Regions from separate parts of the Homo sapiens genome. Here all the other regions are linked to region 1. The links come from fine-mapping of genetic effects on gene expression. A gene starts in region 1. Each other region holds a variant in brackets. All regions are shown on one strand. Distances are between the middles of the regions.

Region 1 (2,500 bases):
GCAGAAGAGAGTGCATGGGCAGCAGCTTGAGTGGTTCGGAGGCAGTGAGGAATGCCATTCTATTACCGTTAAGTCCTAAAGGCAAAATGACAGGATTTTTAAGGAACTGAGGTTCCTTTTGATACGCAGACCATAAAGCTTCACAATTTTAATTGGAGACTGGCGCCCAATTCTAGAGTCTCTTTAAAAAATGTACTTACCCAATGCAAAGGTTTTAAGGGCACCGAGGGGGAAGGATAGTTGGGGTACAGCAAGGAAGTAAAAGAGGAATGACCCGGGGTGCAGTGGCTCACGCCTGTATTCCCCACATTTTGGGAGGCCAGGAGTTCGAGGCTAGGCTTGGCAACATAGAAAGGCTCCATCTCTACAAAAAAAATTAAAAATTAGCCAGGCATGGTGGTGTGCACCTCTAGGCCCAGCTACTCGGGAGGCTGAGGTGGAAGGATCGCTTGGGCCCGGGGGGTTGAGGCTGCAGTGAGCTATGATCACGCCACTGCACTCCAACCTGGGCAGCAGAACAAAGACCCTGTGTCTACAATAAAAAAGGAAAAAAGTCTCGCACAGAGGAAGAGAAGATTAAGGGGAGAAGGTGGGAGTAAGCAGAGGTGGGAAACCAGTTTATCTCTCCCCGCCAAATGCTGCAGCCAGTTCCCTCCAAAAGTGTTAAGGGGCTCCCTTTCCAGATATCAATGTTTTGGAGGAAACGAAAAGCCCCAACTTCAAATCGCCGCCATTCGCAGGCAAAAAAAGGGGCAGTAAGCAGAGGACAGGAAATTGAGGCCTTTCGCTGACGCAGACAAGCCAAGACGTTACGTCACGTCCGCCCAAAACAAACCAGCCCGGCAATTTCTAGATACCGGGCGGACCCGCCTTCAAAATTAGCAACTGAGCATGCACTAACGTCAATACGGAGGGAACGTGATTACATCAGTGTCAGGCGCCGGCGTAATTAAATATAACTGAGTTTACGCAGACGCAGAAAACGCAGGCAAACCTGAGGTCCTCAGAATGGCGGGCACAGGTTTGGTGGCTGGAGAGGTTGTGGTGGATGCGCTGCCGTATTTTGATCAAGGTTATGAAGCCCCTGGTGTGCGGGAAGCGGTGAGTGCGGGGTGTCTTTGTAGCTGACTCACTGCTAGCTGGCTCGGTACTGAAAGAAACATGTTACAATTTGCCACTTCTACCCTGGTCCCTATTCTCTTTCTTAGGCTGCAGCGCTGGTGGAGGAGGAAACTCGCAGATACCGACCTACTAAGAACTACCTGAGCTACCTGACAGCCCCGGATTATTCTGCCTTTGAAGTAAGTATGTCTTGAGCCTAGGTGTGAACGAGAATTCCTGTGAACCTTTATTTTGGATTGAGAGCTTTAAATTCCAGTTTTAACCATTGCCTGCATAGCTACTACTTACCTACTGTATAGGTGTCAGTCTATTGAAAACAACTAGATAGATAAGTCTTCTCCGAGGTTCTTATTCTAAGATCCATAGGAAGACTTTCTGGGGCTCCACAACTCACTTAATGCAAAAATTTGTGGCTACCATTCTTTGAGATAGGATCCATGCGTAAATTCTCAAAGGGACCCTCTCCTGCCAAGATTCACTCTACAGCAAGTGATCTAGGGTTTTTTAATATGTATAAGCCTAATTACCTAAGCTCTTTAGAACCACTGGAGAGTGGCATATTAAAGTCTAGTTATTTACCAAATGTATGTGATACGACTGAAAGGACAAACCATATCCAAGTGTATACTACTTTTTTCTCAGCCTTCTCCTTTTTTCTGTAATCTATCCGATGTTTTTATTAACACATTTCTGATTAATGTAGGCAATAATTTTCACTGATATGAATACTTTACAAGTGCTAGGTGCCATTCTAGATTCTGAGATCATAGAGATATATGGGGTTTCTTTTTTAATATATTTTGTTTTCTTTTAATTTTTCTTTTCTTTATTTAAGACAAACATCCTCTCCAAAAAAGATAGGGTTTCTGAATACAGAAAAATACAATACAGTGAGGAGCTAGATATATAAAACAAAAAGTTTACAATAGTATGTATAAATGTGTAATAATATGTAAAGGACCTATAGCGGAGGGTATGTATAAGGACAAGAGGATTAGAGAAGGGAGTGTCCATGATTGCCTAAGGAGTCAGATGCTGTTCTACTCCACACATTGAGTATGATACTATTTTAAATGTATAACCTTGAAGTACACCCAGGATTCTAGTTAGGGTCTAGTTAGCTAAATGAAATGTAAGATATCATTTCTAAATTATTGGATTCAAGTATTTCAGTATGTACAGCTTGGAGGATTTTTTCCCATTATACCTAATCGTTTATTTATGAAAGGATTGTATTATTAAAAGGCAGTATTTAGCTGGGTGTGGTGGCTCACACCTGTAATCCCAGCACTTTAGGAGGCTGAGGTGTGAGGATCACTTGAGACCAGCCTGGGCAACATAGTGAGACCCTTTCTCTACAAAAGAAAAATTAAAAAGT
Region 2 (2,852 bases), 29 kb after region 1:
CAAGCTGGTCTCGAACTCCTGACCTCAAGTGATCTGCCTGCCTCAGCCACCCAAAGTGCTGGGATTACATGTGTGAGCCACTGCGCCCAGCCTGTTACCTAAAATTAAAATCTAAACTTCTTACCATGGCATACAAAGTTTTTAAGAGAAAGGCAGATAGTGGCCAGACATGGTGGCTCACACCTGTAATCCCAACACTTTGAGAGGCCAAGGCAGGAGGATCACTTATGCCCAGAAGTTTGAGACCAGCCTGGGCAATATAGTGAGACCCTGTCTCTATTTAAAAAAAATTAAATAAATAAAAGAAAGGCAGATAGTGAACCTAGCAGTGAAGTCAAACTGCCAGGAGTCAAACTGTCATTTAATAGCTATGTGATATCAGACAAGTTTATTTACTTCTCTGTGTCTGTTTTCCAGGTGGAAAATTAGCACAATAATTCTACTGTATCTGATAGGGTTGTTGTAAGAATTACATAAATTATTACACATTAAATGCATAGAACAGTGCCTGGCACATGTTAGATGCTGCTATTATTTCCAAATCTTGTAAATCTCGTCTGCCTGAACCCCTTCCTCAAACCATATTTAAATTTTCAGCCAGACGTGCTCATGCCTGTAATCTCAGGCATTAGAGATTTACACACCTGTAATCTCAACACTTTGGGAGGCCAAGGCAGGCAGATCACTTGAGGTCAGGAGTTTAAAGCTAGCCTGGGCAACGTAGCAAGATCCCGTCTCTACAAAAAAATAAAGTTATCTGGATGTGGGCACGTGCCTGTAGTCCCAGCTACTCAGGAGGCTGAGGCAGGAGGCCAGCTTCAGCCCAGGAGATCAAGGCTGCAGCGAGCTATGATCATGCCACTGCACTCCAGCATGGGCAACAGAGCAAGAATCCACATCTAAAAAAAGAAAAAGAAAAGAAAAAATTTCCTGTTTCTCTACACCCACCATGATGCATCCTTCCATTTTTTACCCATTTTCATGTGCTTTTTTCTTTCCTTGGAATACCTTCCCCACTTTGTTTCTTGATGAATTTATGTTTATCCTTCAAGGAAGAGGTTAAGGATAGTAGGCTCTCTGCAGTCTTCTCCATGATGCAGAGGTATATTCATCTTTATACAAATTTTTTAAGTTGCAGACATTTATCTCAAAATAGAGTAGGCTGGGCATAGTTGCTCACACCTGTAATCACAATACTATGGGAGGCCAAGGCAGGTGGATTGCTTGAGTCCAGGAGTTCAAGAACAGCCTGGGCAACATGGCGAGATCCTGTCTCTACAAAAAATAGAAATATTAGCCAGGCCTGGTGGCATGTGCCGGTAGTCTCACTTACTTGGGAAGCTGAGCTAGGAGGATCACTTAAGCCTGGCAGGTTGGGGCTGCAGTGAGCTGTGAGTGTGCCGCTGTACTGCAGAGACCCTCTCTCAAAAAAAAAAAAAAAAAAAAAAAAAGAGTAACTATTACCAAAAAAAAAAAAAAAA[G/AG]GATGAAGTTGAGATATATGCTGGTAACAGAAAGATATTTGTGGTAGGCAGTTTCTACAGTGGCTCCCAATTCCTGCCTCCGATATTAACACCGTTGTATCATCTTTTGTGTGTGTGGGCTGGACCTAGTGACTTGCGTCTAACAAGTAGAATATGGCAAAAGTGATAGAGAGTCACTTCTGAGATTAGATGATAAGAGACTGACTTTCACTCTACTCTCACTCTCTGACTCTTGTGTTCCTTCTGATGAAGCAAGCTGCCATGTTGTGAACTGCCCTATGGAGAAGTCCATGTGGCAAGGAACTGAGGGTGGCCTCCAGCAGACAGCCAGAGCAAAACTGCACTCCGTGGTCCAATGGCCTGGGAGAAGGTGAATTCTGCCAACAACATGAGCAAGCCTGAGTCTACTGCAGTCCCAGGCGACACTTTTTCTTTTCCTTTCCTTTTCTTTTCTTTTCTTTTTTTTTTTTTTTTTTTTGAGACAGTTTCACTCTGTCACCCAGGCTGGAGTAAAGTGGCACAATCTCTGCTCACTGCAATGTACGCCTCCTGGGTTTCAAGCGATTCTCCTGCCTCAGCCTCCTGAATAGCTGGGATTACAGGCACCTGCCACCATGCCTGGCTAATTTTTATTTTTATTTTATTTATTTATTTTTTTTGAGACTGAGTCCCGCTCTGTCGCCCAGGCTGGAGTGCAGTGGTGCGATCTCAGCTCACTGCAACCTCCACCTCCCAGGTTCAAGTGATTCTCATGCCTCAGCCTCCCGAGTAGCTGGGATTCCAGGTGTATGCCACCACGTCCTGCTAATATTTGTATTTTTAGTAGAGACGGGGTTTCACCATGTTGGCCAGGCTGATCTCAAACTCCTGACCTCAAGTGATCCACCCACCTCAGCCTCCCAAAGTGCTGAGATTACAGGCATAAGCTACCGTGCCTGGCCTAATTTTTGTATTTTTAGTAGAGACAGGGTTTCTCCATGTTGGCCAGGGTGGTCTCGAAATCCTGGCCTCAAGTGATCTGCCCACCTCAGCCTCCCCAAAGTGTTGGAATTACAGGCGTGAGCCACCGGCCTGTTTTTTTTTTTTTTGAGCTGGGCTTTCACTCTATCACCCAAGCTGGAATGCAGTGGTGTGATCATAGTTCACTGCAGCCTTAAATTCCTGGGCTCAAGCAATCCTCCTGCTGGGCAACATTTTGACTTGCAGCCTTTTGAGAGATCCTGAAACAGGAGCCCCAACAAAGCCACATCCAGATTCCTGATCCATAGAAACTGTGAGATAATAAATGTTGTTTTAAGCCACCAAGGTTTGGAGCAATTTGTTATGCAGCATTAGATAACAAATAACAATACTATATTGCTAAGTGAAGGA
Region 3 (2,852 bases), 33 kb after region 1:
GTGATTGGCCAGCCTTGGCCTTTCAAAGTGCTAGGATTACAGGTGAGCCACCATGCCCAGGCCATCATTACTTTTTTACATCTATACAGACTGGTATCAGAAGTGAAATTGGCTCAAAGTCCTAGCTCCTAAAGTAATTTGGGGGAATTTTTATGAAATGCAAGCAGAGATAAATGCTGCAAGATTTCTAGGATGGTTCTCAGATCATCCTTAGAGCAGGAACCCCAAAATGTTGTGACTTTTTATAGTAGAGAGGTATCAATTCACTGTCCACTCACATCTTGACTTCAAGTGGTTTGGCACAGTAAATTGAAAACATATAAACATTTGATGAGGCCAAAAACATAATCTATGGGTGCTTCTATCAGTTTTTGCTAGAGTAGCCCAGGTTCCTGGGGTTTTCTTCAGGTTCCCAAGGTTTTCTAAACAAGTTAACTAAGCTTATAAGAGAAGGAAATTATTAGCTGGGAGTGGTGGCACCTGCCTGTAATCCCAGTTACTTGGGAGACTGAGGCAGGAGAATTGCTTGAGTCCAGGAGGTGGAGGTTGCAGTGAGCCAAGATCACGCCATTGCACTCCTGGGCAACAGAGCAAGCCTGGGCAACAGAGCAAGACTCCATCTCAAAAAAAAAAAAAGAACGAAATTTAAACCAGTAGACACTGATATCTGGGATAAAAATACCTGAGTTAAAAAACTAGTGATTTGAAGAAAGACTGAGGACTCATTCAAGCCACAACTAACACTAGATTGAGCAACTTCTCAAGCAGAAACTGGGTAACCGCTGAGGCTGTGGAATTGAGAGGGGATGAGAGTGGTGCCAAAGTACGCTGACTCTCACTGGCCCCACCTTTCCTGGCAGTACCGAGAAAACCAAGGAGGAAGGGAGGTGAGCAAGTCATAGCTAAGGGGAAAATATTAAGTTAGAACAGCAATAGGACATTTTGGGGACACACTTGGGTATTACAGATTTACATAATATTGCATCAATTTTTTATTTCATGGGTAAGATAAAGGTATTGTGGTCTTCAAAGATACGTGCTGGAGTGTTTTAAGGATGAAGCGTTATGATGTTTAGGACTTACTTTCAATGGTTTCAGCAAGAAAAAAAGACATGCATAAATAGGAAGATAGATAATAGATGATAAGCATATATATATATATAACACAAATATAGCACAATACTAGCAACTGGATAAATCCAAGTGAAAAGTATGTGGGTGTTTATTATACTATCCTTTCATCTTTTCTGTAGGTTTAAAATTGTTCAAAATTAAAGTTTTTTTAAAATAATTTAAACTGCTGTGAATAGCTTTGTTTCAATATGTGTGAACTACTTTTGCTACTCTCAGAGACAAGGCTGAAATACATTATGACCTTGGAGCTCTGTCGTTTGTGAAAACTAACTGAAATTAAAAAAAAAAAAAAAATATATATATATATATATATATATATAGTAGAGGCTGGATGCAGTGGCTCATGCCTATAATCCCAGCACTTTGGGAGGCCAAGGCAGCACAATCACTTGAGCTCAGGAGTTCAAGAACAGCCTGACTAACATGGTGAAACCCCATCTCTACTAAAAATACAAAAATTAGCCAGGCCTGCTGGTGCTCACCTGTAGTCCCAGCTACTCAGGAGGCTGAGGCAGGAGAATCACTTGAACCTAGGA[A/G]GTGGAAGTTGCAGTGAGCTGAGATTGCGCCATCGCACAATTTGCATCGCACAATTTGCACAATCGCCATCGCACAAGTTGCAGTGAGCTGAGATTGCGCCAGCCTGGCCGACAAAGCGAGACTCTGTCTCCAAAAATAAAAAATAAAAAAATGGTGGAAAACTTCAAGCTAAAGAAAGTGAAGTGAATGTTTACATTTATTTCTACTACCTCCCAAAATCACACTACAACATTTAGTAAAAGTTTTTTGTTCTTTGTTTTGTTTCAAGGCATAAATCCACAAAGACAAAGAAAATGAGAGATGAGACAACAGCAAGAAATTGGAGAAGATGGAATGCAAATGGAAGAGGGGTAACTGATTCAACAGATGCAAAGAAGCTAAACCTTAAACCAACAGTGAGAAAGCAAAATATGAAAGTTAAAAAGCAGTTTTGTTTATCCACACAACCTTCTGGACCCAGGATTTGGTAGCACCAGTGACCTCTGGGAGTGGGGGTGACTGTGAGGTAAAAAGTGAAATTGGGCCAGGTGCGGTGGCTCACGCCTGTAATCCTAGCACTTTGGGAGGCCAACATAGGCTGATCATTTGAGGTCAGGAGTTCGAGACCAACCTGGCCAACATGGCAAAGCCCTGTCTCTACTAAAAATACAAAAATTAGCGTGCTTCTGTAGTCCCAGCTACTCTGGAGGTTGAGGCAGGAGAATTCAAGCAATTCTCCTGCCTCAACTCCCAAGTAGCAAAGGCGGAGGCTGCAGTGAGCCGAGATCGTGCCACTGCATTCCAGCCTGAGTGACAGAGTGAGACTCTGTCTCAAAATAAATAAATAAATAAATAAATAAATAAATAAATAAATAAATAAAATAAACACAGATATAATAATATTATTTAAATGTACAGTCTCAATGTCCCCCAGATGTCTTTATGGCTCTTCGAATTTAACTTTAAGAAGGAGTTAGACCCTGTTCTACCTTAACTTTAAAGAAGCAGTGAAAGGCTCAAATCCCCATCTTCAATACAAGCTGGCTGGGCAGACAGAAGGCAGAAAGCATGTTTTCCAAAAAGGGGGAAAATAGAGAATTGCTTGACTGGGAACACCTAGTACTGTCAAGGGCAAGGATTCAATCTTGAAAGAAGAAAGATTAAGTGAGAGCTTATATACTTAGGAAGAATCCCTCAGCCCT

Evidence for each region. PIP is the estimated chance that this variant, and not a neighbour inherited with it, causes the effect.
Region 2: its variant is fine-mapped to the expression of BCAS2 in whole blood (INTERVAL, PIP 0.95).
Region 3: its variant is fine-mapped to the expression of BCAS2 in whole blood (INTERVAL, PIP above 0.99).

What each region holds. Positions count from the first base shown.
Region 1 is chr1:114,580,100-114,582,599 of GRCh38, reverse strand. It overlaps BCAS2 (BCAS2 pre-mRNA processing factor), which reads left to right and starts at 985. Exons shown (of 7, transcript NM_005872.3): 1 at 985-1,101; 2 at 1,209-1,301. The coding sequence starts at 1,009. It overlaps LOC105378914 (a long non-coding RNA gene), which reads right to left and starts at 757. Exons shown (of 3, transcript XR_947719.4): 1 at 201-757; 2 at 1-75.
Region 2 is chr1:114,551,346-114,554,197 of GRCh38, reverse strand. No RefSeq gene overlaps it. Among named protein-coding and RNA genes, the nearest start is that of BCAS2, 29 kb to the left of the region's middle. The variant G/AG (reference allele first, on the strand shown) is at 1,482.
Region 3 is chr1:114,547,285-114,550,136 of GRCh38, reverse strand. No RefSeq gene overlaps it. Among named protein-coding and RNA genes, the nearest start is that of BCAS2, 33 kb to the left of the region's middle. The variant A/G (reference allele first, on the strand shown) is at 1,671.